2 separate regions of the Homo sapiens genome follow, and region 1 is linked to region 2. A link means that fine-mapping ties the variant in region 2 to the expression of a gene that starts in the linked region. Tissue or cell type: whole blood. Region 2 holds a variant in brackets; the other region holds the start of a gene. All regions are shown on one strand. Distances are from middle to middle.

Region 1 (8,104 bases), 34 kb before region 2:
AAGGTTAGGCAGAGTAGAAGCACCTGAACCTATGGCCTAGGCACTCAACTCAGCTGGGACATTGTCTCCCTCCAACTCTCACCTCTCTGTGAGGCTTCATTTTCTCCTCCTGCAGACTGGCTTCCTCCACACGGTGGGAAGCAAGACTGCCTTGAGCTTTCCAGCCTCTCACATCCCGGCATCTATGCCAGAGAGGGACTCTCCAAAGAGAAGGATCCAGAGAAAGCCACTGATGGGCCAACTTGGGTGAAATGATGCTGTTATAGCCATTTGCAATTCTCTCCGTACTCACCATTGCCCCCTAACCCCAATTTTATTCAGACTCGAGGCTGTAAATTCCATCTAGATGCTGATGCACCCCTGAAAGGGAGCTTTACCATTTTTACTGCCTGGCATCTGAAAACTCTGTATTAGGGAAGGGTGAAGCTGCTGTAATAAAGAAACGCACACATTGTAATGGCACATCACGTTAGAAGGGTACTTTTTCCTCTAAACACATTTCAAATTGTAGCTATATATAACATAAAATTTAACGTCTTAACTATTTTTGTGTGTGTCTGGGAGGGACGGAGTTTCACTCTTGTTGCCCAGGCTGGAGTGCAGTGGCCTGATCTCGGCTCACTGCAAACTCTGCGTTCCGAGTTCAAGCGATTCTCCTGCCTCAGCCTCCCGAGTAGCTGGGATTACAGGCATGCACCACCACGCCCGGCTAATTTTTGTATTTTTAGTAGAAACAGGGTTTCACCATGTTGGCCAGACTGGTCTTGACCTACTGACCTCAGCCAGGAGGCCTTGGCCTCCCAAAGTGCAGGGATTACAGGCATGAGCTACCTCGCCTGGCTACGTCTTAACTATTTGTAACTGTGCAGTTCAGTAGTGTTAAACCTATTGACGTCTTGTGCACCCATCACCCCCATCCATTTCCAGAACTCTTTTCATCTTGCAAAACCGAAACTCTGTCTCCAATAAACACTAACACCCCATTCCCCTCCCCCCAGCCCCTGGCACCCCCCATTCTACTTCCTGTCTCTATGAATTTGACTTCTCTAGGTCCCTCATATAAGTGGAATCATAAAGTATGTGTTCTTGTGTGACTGGCTTGCTTCTCTTAGCATAATGTCCTCAAGGTTCATCCATGTTGTAGCCTGTGTCAGAATTTTCTCTCTTTTTAAGGCTAAAAAATATTCCATTGTATTTATTTATTTATTTTTATTTTTTGAGACGGAGTCTGGCTCTGTTTACCAGGCTGCAGTGCAGTGGCATGATCTTGGCTCAATGCAGCCTGCGCCTCTGGGTTCAAGTGATTCTCCTGCCTCAGCCTCCCAAGTAGCTGGGACTACAGGCGCCCGCCACCACGCCTGGCTAATTTTTTGTATTTTTAGTAGAGACAGGGTTTCACTATGTTGGCCAGGCTGGTTTCAAACTCTTGACCTCAGGTGATTCGCCCGCCTTGGCCTCCCAAAGTGCTGGGATTACAGATGTGAGCCACCGCGTCTGGTCTATTCCATTGCATTTATGTGCCACATTTTGTTTATTCGCTCATCTGTCAATGGACACTGGGTTGCTTCCACCTCTTGGCTATTGTGAATAATGCTGCTATGAGCATTGGGTGTACAAGTTAGATGTGTATTTCTTGATCATGTAGCAATCTAGGATAGATGTTAGGTGACAGGATGTATTTCCACAAGGTGGTCATTCAGGGACCCAGGTTTCTTGGGGCTCCCCTCTTTCTTTAGGGCCTTGAAAGAGCAGGAAGCAGGCAGATGTTTCTTTTTTTTTTTTGAGATGGAGTCTCACTCTTTTGCCCATACTGAAGTGCAGTGGTGGGATCTCGGCTCACTGCAACCTTTGCCTCCTAGGTTCAAGCAATTCTCCTGCCTCAGCCTCCGGAGTAGCTGGGATTATAAGCGCCCACCACGCCTGGCTAATTTTTGTACTTTTAGTAGAGATGGAGTTTCGCCATGTTGGCCAGGCTGGTCTCGAACTCCTGGACTCAGCTGATCCTCCCGTCTCGGCCTCCCAAAGTGCTGTGATTATAGGCGTGAGCCACCGTGCCTGGCCAACATACATGTTTCTTAAGAGCATTGGCTCGGAAGAGGCCTGTATCGCTTCCATCCCATCCCATTGGTGAGAACCAATCACAAGGCCACACTTAGATGCCAAGAGGAGTGGAAAACAGAATCCATCGATGGGAAGCAGCATCCCAAGAGTGATTTTGTACTGCGGAAGGGAAGAACAGATGTTAATTGTCAATTAAGCCATGTCGGCTGCAACCCATCCCATGTTTGGGAAACATCCTGGTATTGGTTGGGTTGCCTTAAGGGAGAGACTCAGAATTACCAATGGTTTCAGTGAGTTAGAAAGTGATTTCTCTCACATAAAATCTCAGCTGGCACGGAGCCTCTTTCACGAAGCCATCCAGTGTCTAGCTGGCTCCCTGTGTCTTGTTTCTCCTCCATCCTCAGTGTTGGCTTCCATCTGGTGTGCCAATGAGCTGTTCTCGATCTTGCCGTTGTCAATTTGACCAGCGAAGAAGGGGAATGGGCTGGAGAGGGAGGAGGCTGTCCCTCCCAACAACCAGGTCACTGCAGGACACCCACTGAATGATCTGATTCAGAGGAGCACAAGCACATGACTTTTCTTATAAACAGGTTTCCTCGTGTAGAGTTTGTACCCTAATAATTTGTTTCTATTGCTGTTATGATAGCACTTCACTCTCTTTTTTTTTTTTTTTTTTTTGAGACGGAGTCCCATTCCATCGCCCAGGCAAGAGTGCAGTGGTGCGATCTCAGCTCACTGCAACCTCTGCCTCCCAGGTTCAAGCCATTCTCCTGCCTCAGCCTCCCGAGTAGCTGGGATTACAGGTGTCCGCCACCACGCCCAGCTAATTTTTGTATTTTTAATAGATATGGGGTTTCACTATGTTGGCCAGGGTAGTCTCGAATTCCTGACCTCCTGACGTCTGCCTCTGCCTCCCAAAGTGTTGAGATTTACAGGTGTCAGCCACTGCACCCGGCCACACTTCCTTCTGTTCTAAGATATATTTAAAAATTTACCTTTGTGATATTTCTGAAGGAGGGACACAGATATCCTCCTATTGACACACACAGTTAACACAGCACTGTTCACCCCACCCCATGGAAAGATGTTATTAAATCAATAATATACATCTTATGATTGATGCTCACTGAGCTTTGAGGGTATACAGTGGCCACAACAATAGACTTATATGTAACACTGCTAATAGGTAATAATAACCACCATCATTTTTGTGAACTTACTATGGGCCAGGTATTGAACTAAGCAGCTCTTACACATATTACCTTGCAGGTTATCTTATTTTTTCCCATTCCACAGATGAGAAATTGAGGCTGAGAAAGGTGTTATTCCACCAGTGAATTATAGCTTCTTATCTTTTCTGACTACCAGTGAGGATGATAACAATTATAAGCGATAAGTCATCTGCCACTTAGGTGAGAGTCAGCCAAGTACAGAACAGAGGAAGGACCAGAAGGACCAGCCTACAAGGACACTATGGTTTGGACAATTATTTTAAAATATGTGTTTTTTGCAAGAATACCAACAGTAACAGCTAACACCCAGTGCGTCCTTACTAGGTGCCTACCTAACGCGGGGGAAGTAGTGGATTCTCAGGGCTATGACACGAGGCAGTGTGTACAGTCAAGGGTTAAATACACGAATTTAGAGCCAAACTCCATGGGTTCGGGCCGAGGCTCTGGCATTCCGGGTGTGTGACTTTTGGTAGGTGATTTGACTCCTCACCTGCAACATAGGGATAGGACCTACCATGAGGCCCTAGTTAGGACTAGGACCTAGTGCGTGTGAAGCACTTGGAGGCGCACAATGTATTTTCATCACTTCAGAAAGGAGGAAACTGAGGCCATGGCACCTGAAGCGCAGCACTCTCTGTCCAGTAACTAAGGAACCCGGGGTCTCTGTCCAGTAACTAAGGCACCTGGACTCGGGCCACTGGGAGGTGCAGCGGCAGAGAAGGGGTTACCATGATAGAGACGGTAGGAGGACCCGGGGTGGCACGAGCGTCCCTCTCCACCACTTCACTCTCCTCACGGCGGGCCCGGGGACCCGGCCGCGCAGGCGCGAGGAGCCCGGGTTGTCGGGGGGGCACCGCCCTAGACACCCGGAAGTCTCCGCCTAACGGGCCCAGCCCGCACCTCCTGTCCGGGAAGGGGGCGGGGCCGAAGCCCCTCGGCGCGGGGCGCCATAGAGCATGGACGGAGGACCTGCGTCCTAGACACTTCCGGAAGTGGCTCCCTCAGGCGCCCGCCGGGCACCACAGAGCTGGGGGCGGTGGCCGGGATAGCGGGCTCGCCTTCCTAGAGCGGCGAGGACAGGGTGGCGGCCCGGGGGGCAGGGAGTAGGGAGAAGGGGGGGAGCGGCGCGGGCGGAAGCGGCCGGGAAGGTCACTTCCGGCCTGGGCGCCCGTCCCCCTGACCCCAGGGTCTGAGTCGCCGCTGCCGCCGCTGCCACCATCCGCGAGGCAGGAGAGAGGAGGAGGAGTGCGGCGCGGCGGCCCCGGGACCAAGGAGGTGAGGGGTGGGGGCGGGGGCCGTGCGCTGGGGGCCAGGTGGGCGCGCGCTTCGGGAAGCTGGGCTTGGGCTGGGGGTGGGTGGGGAGACTGGAGGGCGAGCGCGACTGGGCGGCGGGCGCGCGTGCGCGCTGCTGGGGGGGCGTGAGTGGGCGCGCGGCCGGGGTGACGCGGGCGGGGGGAGTGCGCGTGCGCGCCGAAGAGCTGTGGGAGGGGACGCGCGCCCGGGCGGCCCGCGGGCGGCGAGCGGGGCTGGAGGGGGGGTGCGCGTGCGCGGGTCCGGGTCCAGGGCGCGCGCGTGCGCGTGGCGGGGGCAGGAGCGGGGGCCTCGGTGGGGGTCCCTCTGCTGCGGGCCGTCGGGGGTGGGGCCGCTGTCCGTCCCCCCGAAGTTCCAACTCCGCCGGTCGTGGCCGGAAGTGGTGGCGACTTCGGGGGGAAGTTGAGGCCCAGGTGGGGGAAGGGGCCGCGCGGTTGGGCTGGCCTGGCCGGATACCGCGGCCCCGAGGGCACGGTCTCAGCCCTCGGCCCCCCCAGCCCTTCCTTCCCCTTTTCGAGTCAGCCCGGGTCCCGTTGCTGCCCCGGGCGGGCTGCGCGTGGCCTTTGATCAGGCGGGTAATTACGGGGATTCTGGCCGGCAGGAGGCCCATTCATTCGTCCTTGCTCGGCAGGCGGGGAGGAAGCGCGTCCCCAGCGGGGGAAGTGACTGGGCCAAGGTCAGCCACCGCGTGGCCCACGGGGCAGGGCGAAGGCGGGGACTGGATCGGGTGGCGACTCCTGAGGCCTCCCTCCCCTGTGCCGAGTGGATCAGAGTGGAGCCCCGCCCTCCTGACACCCCACCCCGACCCCCAGTCCAGGGAGCTGACCCCAATTCATGTGGATGAGTGCTCTGGGACCTGCAGAGTCGCACAGAAAAGTGACCCACAGACACAGAAGGCAGGAGTGAGTGGAGGCAGAAGTTTTTCCAGTGCCAGGCCCTGTGCCGGGCACTAGAGACAGGGAGCAGGGAGATGAACAAGGGCTTGGAGTCTGGGTGGAAGGCAGAGACTGAGACCCGGGCGACAGAGTCGCCATCCAAGGTGACCAGACCCCTGATGGAGAGGTCTGGGGGCTGTGGGAGCCAGGGAAGGCATTTTGACCCAGCCCAGTCCGGGGGATGGTCAGGGCTTTAGGGAAGGAATGGCTTGGTCTGCTCTTTGCGGTGTCCTGCTCCCAGGTCCCATGTTGCGCAGTGCTTAGAACCCATCTGGGGATCCGATTGACCCCAGCGCCGGGAAGCACAGTTGCGTTGATCCTGGCTTAGCTCCTCTGAAGACCGTAAGCCTCTTTGGCTAAACGCTGCTGACATTCACCTGCCTGCCTCTGCGCAGTCCCTGTGGTCCTCCGGCCACGCACGGCCTCAGAGAACATCCAGATCAGATTCCTGCTTGCTTATCTCATGTCTTATCCATCCATCCGGGCACCCGGCCTGGCCCCTCCCTGGTGCACTGCCAGAGTGTGTGCAGGCACTGGGTTGTATTCCCCAAGAGCTCTGGGACTGGGCAGGCCTGGGTTCAAGTCCCAGCCCCACCACTCACCTTCGTGGCCTTAGACGAGTAACTTCAGTGCCTTACTTTCCACCAGGACAGAGTGGGAGTGGTAATAATAGTATTGACCTCAGCGGGAAGGCTCTTAATGCTTTCATTTTAGAGCCAGAGCAGACCTCAACAGATGGGTGTAAAGTAAATGGAAAGGGCTCTGGAGCCAGGCCCTTTCCTGGGCCTTGGCCTTGGCACTGTCTCTTCCACTTCTGTGACCTTGGACATGTCACTTCCCTTTTCCCAGGTTCAATTTCCCTTCAGTTGTCTAAAAACGAGAGCAAGTTCACAATTCCCTGAGTAAATGTAATCCATCCAGGCGGCTGCACAGGCCAGGCCCTGTGCTGGGCATGAGGTCACACATGGTCTTGGCACAGCACTGTCCTGTGAGGGCCCAGATGAGGTGCCTGGCCCAGCCTGGGTGAAGAGAGGGATCTCAAGGCCCTTCTGTGCAAGCACAAGGTAGAGTGGTGCTCCGTGCTGGGCAGCCTGGCAGGAATCATACAGTCCCTGTCCCAGAGCAGCTGAGACCCATTCACACTGGGCAGAGGGGTGGGGAGATTTGCCAGAGTGCTCCCGGGAGCTCTGACCTTGAGGGAGGGGTGTGTGGTGCAGGGGAGGTATTGTGTCTTGAAAGATAGAGAGGAAGGATTGGCTACCAGGAACCTGGTACTTAAGGGAGGATGACAGTGGGCTCTGGGCAGGGAATGGCAGGGGTCACAGCTCAAGGCCACCAGCAACTGCCTGGCTGCCCTGGGAGGTCTTTTGTTACTAGGCATACACAGCTCTCAGGACACCCATCCTCAGACATGTTTCACAGGCCTTTCCAAACCTCGTTCGTGTGTCCTCTGGTGCATCCTGAGGCCTCCAGCCTAGTGAGGACTGTGCCAGGTGCTGGGGCCTCTGTGGTGTGAGAAACTGCAGATTCGACAACACTTGCTGGTGCACACTTTGCAGGAACCTGGCCCAGTGCCTGGTCCTCACTGTCCTAAATTCTCAAGGCTCTGGGATGGAGGTGGTCACCTCCATTTTAGGGGTATGGGATGGAGGCTCTGGATGGCACTTGTTAGCCCAAGGCCCCCAGCAGCTTCAGAACCTGTGTCTACTGCGATTCCAGAGCCCAGACCCTTGACCATCACAACCGCCCCCTTCCGCCCCCAGGTTGGGGTCTAGGGGGACAAAGGCTGTTCCGAAGTCCTCTAGGTGTTAGTCATTGGCTTGGAGACGCTGGACTCCCTGCCTAGTGGGGTGTACTGTCCACGAGGACTCCTACACGCAGGGCTGCTGGCTGGTTCAGGGGAACCCCAGCATAGTGGGAGAAGCACAAGTGGCTCGGAAGTTGAGTGCTGAGATCCATGCAACCCCCAAGGAGGCCTCACTCACCCAGCATCAGGGAGAGCAAGGCAGGTGTGGAGTTCGAGCAGTCACACCTCCAGTGTCAGTGGCCCTGTCCCAGGAGCCCAGAGCTGTCACCTTACAGCTGCAGAGAAACCAGCCCAAGCTCTGAGCCCAGGTGGGGCGGCCCCAGGCCTGTCTGTTCCTGCAAGGGACCTGGCAACTTGAGGCTGTTTTTCGTGACGTTTTCCTGGTTCCGTCTCTGCCGTGGCCTGAGCCTTCTCCCTTTGGGCTCACAGAGTGTGGACGTCTCTCTTGTGCTAAATGGGGGTCCCATCTGGCCCCCCTGTTTCGAGGCCTTGCAGTGGATAGTGTTGGGACCCAGAGATGCATCAGAAGTGGTCCTTGCCTCAGCCCAGGGTCCAGCCAGTCAGAGCCATGGATTCCTGAGGCTGCTGTGTGCAGGGTCTTTGCTGGAAATAGCCCCGCCCTCAAGTGCACAGTCTGCTGGATGCACTGTGGGACTGATGGGGACCTATAGTAGGTGTCGCAGAGGTGAATAAGACACGGAGTAAGACACAGATCCCCCTGCGGGACACAGGACCATCCTCAATGGTGGACGTTAAAG
Region 2 (8,104 bases):
TCGGCTGCGGCTGCGGCTGCGGCTGCGGCAAGTGGAGCGGCTCATCTTGGCCCATGCGCGGTGCAGACGCAGCCTCTTGTCAGAAACCAGTCTGTGCCTGTGAAGCGCGGTTTCCTGGGCCTTACTGAGATGCAGCACGGGAAGGTTTGCGCAGAGCCCAGGAATCTGCAAGATGTAAAAGAGCCCTGCCTTTTAAGTAATTAAACCCTGTCCATTTAACAGTGCTTAACTCGTACTTAGAAAAAGTAGTGCAGAGATGCCTGTAGAGAAGCCAGATCGCCTACGGCCTAAAGCAGAAAACAGCTCCCACCTCCTGCCTTCCCCACTCCCAGTTTGCCTCTAGAGGAAGGAGCCCCTCCATGCACTCTTTGGGGTTCTCCCTGGTTCTAGGTAAAGAGCTCATGAAATTGCTTTGATAGTTGCAAATCTAATGGGAGGTGAGGACATGGCTCCCACATCCTCTCCCCACTCTCCACTCACTGCGCTCTCCACGTACTGCACACCCGCCCCAGTGCCCCTGTCTTAGCTGCCACTGTGTCACAAGTTTTGTGTTCAGAATTCATGTCGTCATGAATAAATGCTATTCATAGCTGAGTCACAGGGAGCATTGCTACACTTTCTTTCTTCACAGCTTCGAAAACAAAGCAGTTATTTTAATTAAAGGCGTAGAAGCACTTGTAAGGTTCAGATAGTATGGCTCGGTTTACGGTGACAACAAATCTCTTTCCTGCCCGTCCCTTTCTGTCCCCTTCAGTCACACTGCCCCGGGGCAAATAGCTTCTGATGTTTGTTTTTAATTCTCTCTACATCTTTAAGTAATGTGCTTATAACTTACAACATTTTTTGATTTATGTTGACAACGCAGTGGGCTCCATGCCATCTCTCCAGAAGGCTCCCCCCTTCCTGACTTCACCTGGAGTGTTTTCTTCTGCCGCAGGTTCAAGAGCCATATTCGAATACTCTCTGCCTTGGAATAGTGATTCTCACACTGGAGCTGGCATCAGAATCACCTGGGGGGCTTGCTGAAGCACAGGCCCGGCCCGGCACTTTCTCATACAGTGCGTCTGGAGGGAGGCCTGAGCATAAGCGTTTTTGTTTTGTTTTGAGATGGAGTCTTGCTCTGTCGCCCAGGCTGGAATGCAGTGGTGTGATCTCAGCTCACTGCAACCTCTGCCTCCCGGGTTCAAGTCATTCTCCTGCCTCAGCCTTCCAAGTAGCTGGGACTACAGGCATGCGCCACCACGCCCGGCTAATTTTTGTGTTTTTAGTAGAGATGGGGTTTTGCCATGTTGGCCAGGATAGTCTTGAACTCCTGACCTCAAGTGATCTGCCCACCTCGGCCTCCTAAAGTGCTGGGATTACAGGCGTGAGCCACCGCTCCGGGCAGTGCATAAATGTTTTTAATATGTTCTCTGTGGCGCCGATGCTACTGGTCGCAGGATCCCACTTTGTGGAGCACTCCCTTAGCGTGTAGGGTGTGCTGCCTGTGGGTGGGGGATTTAGCGGTGGGCGGCCGCAGTTAGTGGTAGATGGCTGTTTCTTGGACCCAGTCTACTAATGCGCTTCTGGGCATTGCCACTTTGTAGTCGTGTAGCTGTGGGCTGTGACTCGACTCCCTAGTGCCTCAGTTTCTCCCTTGTAAAGGCTCAGTTTTGTGCTCCCAGCTTATGAGGACCTGACGCTGAAGTGTGTAGCGCAGGGGGGCGTCATGGCCCTTCCTTGCGTGTTTGCCAGCGTGGCATCTGGGAGGGTGTTTGGGCTCTGTGTGCTGGGCACCACCGTGCCAGGTGTTGGGATAGAGACTTAGGAGCTTACAGTCTAGTAAGGTCAGGAGTGAGAACGTTGTAATTGTGATTCATGGCTTTGAAAAAACCCTGTGGGGTGCACCTGGGGTGTCCACGGGGGTCAGAGATGCACTTGCTGAGGCCCTCCCACCTGATTCTGTTGCTCTGGACCAGGCCCCAAGGGAGAGCAAATGTAGAAGCTGCACACGGACCCTTCTCAGGAGTGAATGAGCTGGGGAGGAGGCAAGCCCATCCCTCCCGGGAGAGCCCCCAGGGGCAGGCCTGGTGCAGAAGTGTGAAAGGCCTCGTTGACTGCTGGAAGGGCGTCCTCAGTGTAAAGATGTGCAGGCAAAGCCCTGTGTGCCCGAATTGTCCTCACTGAGCAGACAGGAGCCCCCACACCAGGGGCTGACCATAGCCTCTGTAATGGAGGTGGCGTTGAGCCAGGTTTTACTCCCAGGTTCGGAGGTGGGGCTTTCATGCTCATCTCCAATCCCATTACCTGTCTGCAGCCAGGATTGTCTTCCTGGAGCCCGAATGTGACACCATCGCTCCCTGGCGGGCACGTCTTCAGGGTGCCAAACCCACTCCCTGGCTCAGGACCAGGTGTCCAGGGCTGCATTCAAGCCCTGCGGCCCCTCTGCCTAGTGGAACCTTTGCCCGTGAGCCTTCCTCATCCTCTGCCCCCGGCGTCCAGGCTGGTGTTTTGGGTTTCGGGGTCCTTTTCTGGGAGCCTTCCGTGGATCCCGCCCCTCGCCCATGCCTCTTATGTTGCCTGGTTGTTTACAGACCAGGCCTTCTGTGTCTGGGGCATTGTTCTAGAGGTTGGGGGTAAACTGAGGGTCTTAACTCACACAGAGCTGAGGTCTTAGCTGGGGAGAGGGGTAATAAATACTTAGTAAAATGCAGGGAGTGATGCACACTCTGAGGACACCAGGGCAGGTCCTGCGCCAGGGGGAGCGAGGCACCCGAGGCCAGCGTAGCAGCCAAGGCAGGCGTGGAGCCCTTGCCTCTCTTGACTCACCTCCCCCTACCCTCTTGCTTTCCAGTGGACATCCTCATCATGGATGATGACGACGTCCCCAGCTGGCCTCCCACCAAGCTGTCCCCGCCCCAGTCTGCGCCCCCAGCCGGCCCGCCTCCCCGGCCGCGGCCGCCCGCCCCCTACATCTGCAACGAGTGTGGCAAGAGCTTTAGCCACTGGTCCAAGCTGACGCGGCACCAGCGCACGCACACCGGCGAGCGGCCCAACGCCTGCGCCGACTGCGGCAAGACCTTCTCGCAGAGCTCGCACCTGGTGCAGCACCGGCGCATCCACACGGGCGAGAAGCCCTACGCCTGCTTGGAGTGCGGCAAGCGCTTCAGCTGGAGCTCCAACCTCATGCAGCACCAGCGCATCCACACGGGCGAGAAGCCCTACACCTGCCCCGACTGCGGCCGCAGCTTCACTCAGAGCAAGAGCCTGGCCAAGCACCGGCGCTCGCACAGCGGCCTCAAGCCCTTCGTGTGCCCGCGCTGCGGCCGCGGCTTCAGCCAGCCCAAGAGCCTCGCGCGTCACCTGCGGCTGCACCCGGAGCTGTCGGGGCCTGGCGTGGCGGCCAAGGTGCTGGCGGCTAGCGTCCGGCGGGCCAAGGGGCCCGAAGAGGCGGTGGCGGCGGACGGCGAGATCGCCATCCCCGTGGGCGATGGCGAGGGCATCATCGTGGTGGGCGCGCCGGGCGAGGGGGCCGCGGCCGCGGCAGCCATGGCGGGCGCGGGGGCAAAGGCCGCGGGGCCCCGGTCGCGGCGCGCCCCGGCCCCCAAGCCGTACGTGTGTCTGGAGTGCGGGAAGGGCTTCGGGCACGGGGCCGGGCTCCTGGCGCACCAGCGGGCCCAGCACGGGGACGGGCTCGGGGCGGCGGGGGGCGAGGAGCCGGCCCACATCTGCGTGGAGTGCGGGGAGGGCTTCGTGCAGGGCGCCGCGCTCCGGAGACACAAGAAGATCCACGCGGTGGGCGCGCCCTCGGTCTGCAGCAGCTGCGGACAGAGCTACTACCGCGCGGGCGGGGAGGAGGAGGACGACGACGACGAGGCCGCGGGCGGGCGGTGCCCCGAGTGCCGCGGTGGGGAGGGCCGGTAGGGGAGGGGCCCGGGGGGGGGGGCGGGCAGGGCCCCTCGGGCTTGGCGGGAGCGACGACGTGCAAGACCAAGAGACCCAGGGAGAAGCGGACGGGGTGCGATGGACCCCGCGGCATCCCCGGCTCCCCGCCCTCCTCTGTCCCTGCGCCGTCCGTGGGGGGGCACTGGGGCGTATTAGGGCCCGTTCACTTCTCCGCCTCGAGACTCTGCCCCCTCAGCCTGGCCCGCCCTTCCTAAGTTATCGGCCTGCGAGCCGGAGAGACAATGGAGAGAACTGCAGAGGCCGAGTGGCGACCAGGCCCCAAGCGGAAGGCCATTTTCCCTGCTCTTCCTCAGTTGTCCGGGGCGGGGGTGGGGGGTGCTGCGAGGAATGGAGAAACCAGGCCCTTTAGAGGATCCCAGAGAGGGAAGAGAACCAGGGGCCCTTTTCTCTTTTA[GAATTTTCTTTTAA/A]TCAGCCCACCTTTTGACTCCCCGCCCGCCCCAATCCATTATTTTTTTCTGCCTTCCGGGTCCCATCCTTAGAGCTCGAGTCGTTCCTTCCCCTCCTGGATTCCGGGTAGCAGAGGCAGCGCCGCAGGAGGCGGGTGCCCGTTTGTCCCAGGCCTGGGCGTGGTGGAGGAAGGGGTGCTGGAACAATAAACGGCACTATCCAAATGTCCCCCTCTGCGTGGTTCTTGAGTCCGGGAGGGAGAAGGGCAAGAGGGGTAAACGGAGGCTCTCGCCGGGGCATCAGCAGAGCGTCAGCCGCGCCCCGGGAGTGGCCCGTTGGGTCGCCCGCGGAGGGCTCTAGGCAGGGGGGCCTGTCCGCGGATATCCTCACTATGGTGCGGGCACTCACAGGGCCTGGGAGCTGCTTGTAGATGGGGCAGGGCGGACTGGTCAGGGCCAGGCCTGCCCGCTGCAGGGGAAGGAGCCCCCACGGCTTCTACCACCCTCTCACAGGGGCGGCTGGCTTCCTCCACTCCTATCGTGTGGCCCCCGCCCCTAACCCCAAAAGCACCCTCCTCCTGCCTCCAGCTTCTGGGGGAGACTCTGACTGCAAAGGGCGCACGTCCCCCTACCTGGGTCGTTCACGGGGCTGGTCCCGTGGTTGCGGCTCCCTGCGAAGGAGGCTGGGAGATGAGGTCCCGGCGGCTGCCGCTCCGGGGACAGGACCCCCCGCCCCCTACGGGAGGAGGATGGTGCGCTCAGCTGTCTCTGCTGCAGGGGCCAGGCAGACGAGCCAGCCAGGGGCTGGGGGAGAGGGCGGGTATGCCACAGTCCAGCCGAGCGCTTAGGGCATTTCAGGCAGTGCGCGTGCCCGAGGGGCTTGGTCCGGTAGAGCCGCTGCAGCCGCCCTGCCAGGTGAGCGCTGTTGTTCATGATCAGAAGGGGGCTCGACCATGGCGACTGGTTTCCTGGACCCACAGCCCAGGTCCTGAGGACCCATGTTCCTGGGGCCTTGGGAGGCCGCAGTGAGGGTCCCAAAGGGGTATTTTCAACCTGGCTGAAGGCTGCGATTACTCAGGAGCGATTGGAGGCGGCAAGCTGCAGGCGTCTTTGACTTGGGGGTTTCATAGTAGAGGGGGACTTGAAGGAGAAATTCGGATTTCCAGTTAGAGCCCTTAATCTGCCCTTTCACACCCTGATGTGCTTGAGGAGGGTCCTGGGGCCTCATCTGGAGGCAGGGGGTTTAGAAACCAGGGCCACTGATGGTCTACAGATCCTGGAGGATTTGTTAGAGGACTAGGGAGTGATTGTGGATCAAAAAAGCGTGTTCTCAAGTGGCCAGAGCCTTGCTTAGATAATTGGTATTGCATGTCAGTTTTTGAAATTTCAGGTCACTCGAAAGGAGGGGGTGAACCTTGGCAGTTCAGAGTGGGCTGGGTTAGCAAAGACTGAGGAAGCATTGCTCACTTCTCCTAGGGTCCTTCTGTGGAGCTCTGGCCTTGGGCACTTCTGGAGGCCTGGGAGGATGGGAGGTGCCCTGTCTGGTAGAATTGGCAGCTCGGTGCCCCATAAGTCGGGCACACTGAGTCTCGGGTCAGCCTCTTCTACCTGCTCCAGTATATGGTGGCAGGAGCTGACACCTATAGCAAGAAAGATTCAGGGCAAGTTTCCACCCTGCCCCTTAAGGCTGTGTGACCCTGGGCAAGTGGACTAACCTCTCTGACCCTTGGCTTCCTGCCCTGTGGAAAGGAGAGCTTGCCTGCCTGCCTTGTATGACTGTGTGTGGAGGGGGGAATCCCCAAGCCATGTGTTAACTCACTGGAGCTGCCCTCCCAGGCATGAGCAAAGATGCAGGGGCGAGGAGCCAGGCTCAAATCCCAGCTCTGCACTACTCATCCCACTTTGTAATACAGAACTGAGCGAGCTCACATGACCACCTTGACATCAGCCTGCACCGGACCCAACACCTGACCTGTGCTTTGGTGTCACACGCTGTCCGTTACTGATTCATGCACTCAGGTAGTCATTGCCCACCCCTCACTCACTCATTCTACAAATGTGTTTTGGGCAGCAGCTCCGTGCCCAGTAGGCACGGCGTGGGTCCCAGGTAAAGAAAGGAACATGGGTTCTTGTGGCACTTGCCGTCGGCCCTGTAGTTCACCTGCATTGGAGCTGCTCACCCACGGCAAGGTGAGGCTAGGCGGCCGCTCCATGCTCACAAACCCACCCTGGCAGTGACCGCAGAAGTTCCTTCGGCCCCCATTCCTCTCATGCTCACTTTGGTGGAGGGCACGCCCAGACTCGTTCACGCCCCTTACGGAGTCCAGTCCTCACAAAGGCCCTGTGTGGTTGCCATCATTCCTCGGCTGCTGCTGCTGAAGCTGGTACGAGGAGAGGAAGCAGCCTGCCCAGGCTACTGGTTTGTAAAGTGGTAGAACCTTAATCTGGATCTAAAGTCCTGACACCCATGCCCCCCACCCCCGGCCCCCTGCTGAGTTGATAATCCACTTAATCTTAGGTGTTTATCGGGCACTTCTTTCCTGTGAGGGACTCTGCTAAGCATGGGGGCACAGCAGTGACCTCAACAGGCACAAATCTCTGCTGTCATGGGGGCTGGGAGGGGATACACACAGCTAAGGGCTGAAGGGACAAAAAGAGGCTCTCAGGAGGCAGGAGGTGGAGGAGTCCTGGGCAGGGGGCAGGTGTGACAGGCAATCCCAGGGGGAGTGAGGGCCAGACAGGTGAGTGGAAAGGGACCCTCCACCCAGCTTACTCCCCAGCCTGAAGGCAGTGTTGATCTGGAAATGATTTTATTCCATACAGCCCCGTTTCCCTAAGGGTAGCCTGGAGAGTGTAGGTTCCAGGGAATATTGTTAAGATGTTTGGAGAAAACAGGATCTTGTATTCAAATAACCTGGGAAAATGCTGGATTCAAGTTTTCTTTTTTTTTTTTTTTGAGACGGAGTTTCGCTGTGTCACCCAGGCTGGAGTGCAGTGGTGCAATCTGGACTCACTGCAACCTCTGCCTCCTGGGTTCAAGCAATTCTGTCTCAGCCTCCCAAGTAGCTGGGAATACAGGCACCCAGCACCACACCCGGCTCACTTTTGTATTTTTAGTAGAGATGGGGTTTCACCATATTGGTCAGGCTCATCTTGAACTCCTGACCTCAAGTAGTCCACCCACCTTGGCCTCCCAAAGTGCAGGGATTACAGGTGTGAGCCACTGCACCCTGCCGGATTGAAATTTTCTCATACACAGAACAGTACTTGGCAGGTGGAAGGTGCTGAGCCAAGATTTAGTCGACTGGATGAATTATAAAACTAGCCCCCCACACCCACCCGGCTCAGAACTTTCCACTATGATTCTGTATACCCGGGTGGGGCTGGGGGCCAGGGCAGGGGTAGGTGAAAACATGCAGCATTTTCTGAACTTGTTCTGTCAGAAAACCTTCCATTTATAGAGCATCTTGGGCTGGTGTACTCCAGGCCATCCTTAGAGAAGTGCATGCATGTGAATTGTGTGTGTCTCTGCATGTATGAATGCATGTCTGTGTGGATGGTGCATCTGTATCTTTGTGCATATGTATGTCTGTGCGCATGTGGGTATGTGTGTGTCTGTGGTATACATCCACCCTCCTTCCCCTCATATCTACCACTCAAAGAGGCTGTGGGTGGGGACGGAGTTGCCTCTGGCACCATTGATTTTGCCTCCTCTCCTGCCTTGATGGACAAGTCTATCCAGAAATTCCCTATTTTCTGGCGCCGGTCTTTCA

Evidence for each region. PIP is the estimated chance that this variant, and not a neighbour inherited with it, causes the effect.
Region 1: ZNF787 starts here. The variant in region 2 is fine-mapped to the expression of ZNF787 in whole blood (INTERVAL, PIP above 0.99).

What each region holds. Positions count from the first base shown.
Region 1 is chr19:56,117,636-56,125,739 of GRCh38, reverse strand. It overlaps ZNF787 (zinc finger protein 787), which reads left to right and starts at 4,445. Exons shown (of 3, transcript NM_001002836.4): 1 at 4,445-4,568. LOC124904772 (a long non-coding RNA gene) reads right to left here and starts at 4,130. Exons shown (of 2, transcript XR_007067348.1): 1 at 3,808-4,130; 2 at 1,195-2,220. RefSeq lists silencers at 3,949-4,318, 4,409-4,528, 4,539-4,618, 4,909-5,228, 5,309-5,358 and enhancers at 3,963-4,678, 5,106-5,400, 7,636-7,805, 7,545-8,104.
Region 2 is chr19:56,083,822-56,091,925 of GRCh38, reverse strand. ZNF787 (zinc finger protein 787) reads left to right here. Exons shown (of 3, transcript NM_001002836.4): 3 at 2,834-4,560. The coding sequence ends at 3,903. Among named protein-coding and RNA genes, the nearest start is that of LINC01864, 21 kb to the right of the region's middle. RefSeq lists enhancers at 1-502, 1-707, 837-1,006, 4,979-5,578, 5,914-6,413 and 1 more. The variant GAATTTTCTTTTAA/A (reference allele first, on the strand shown) is at 4,340.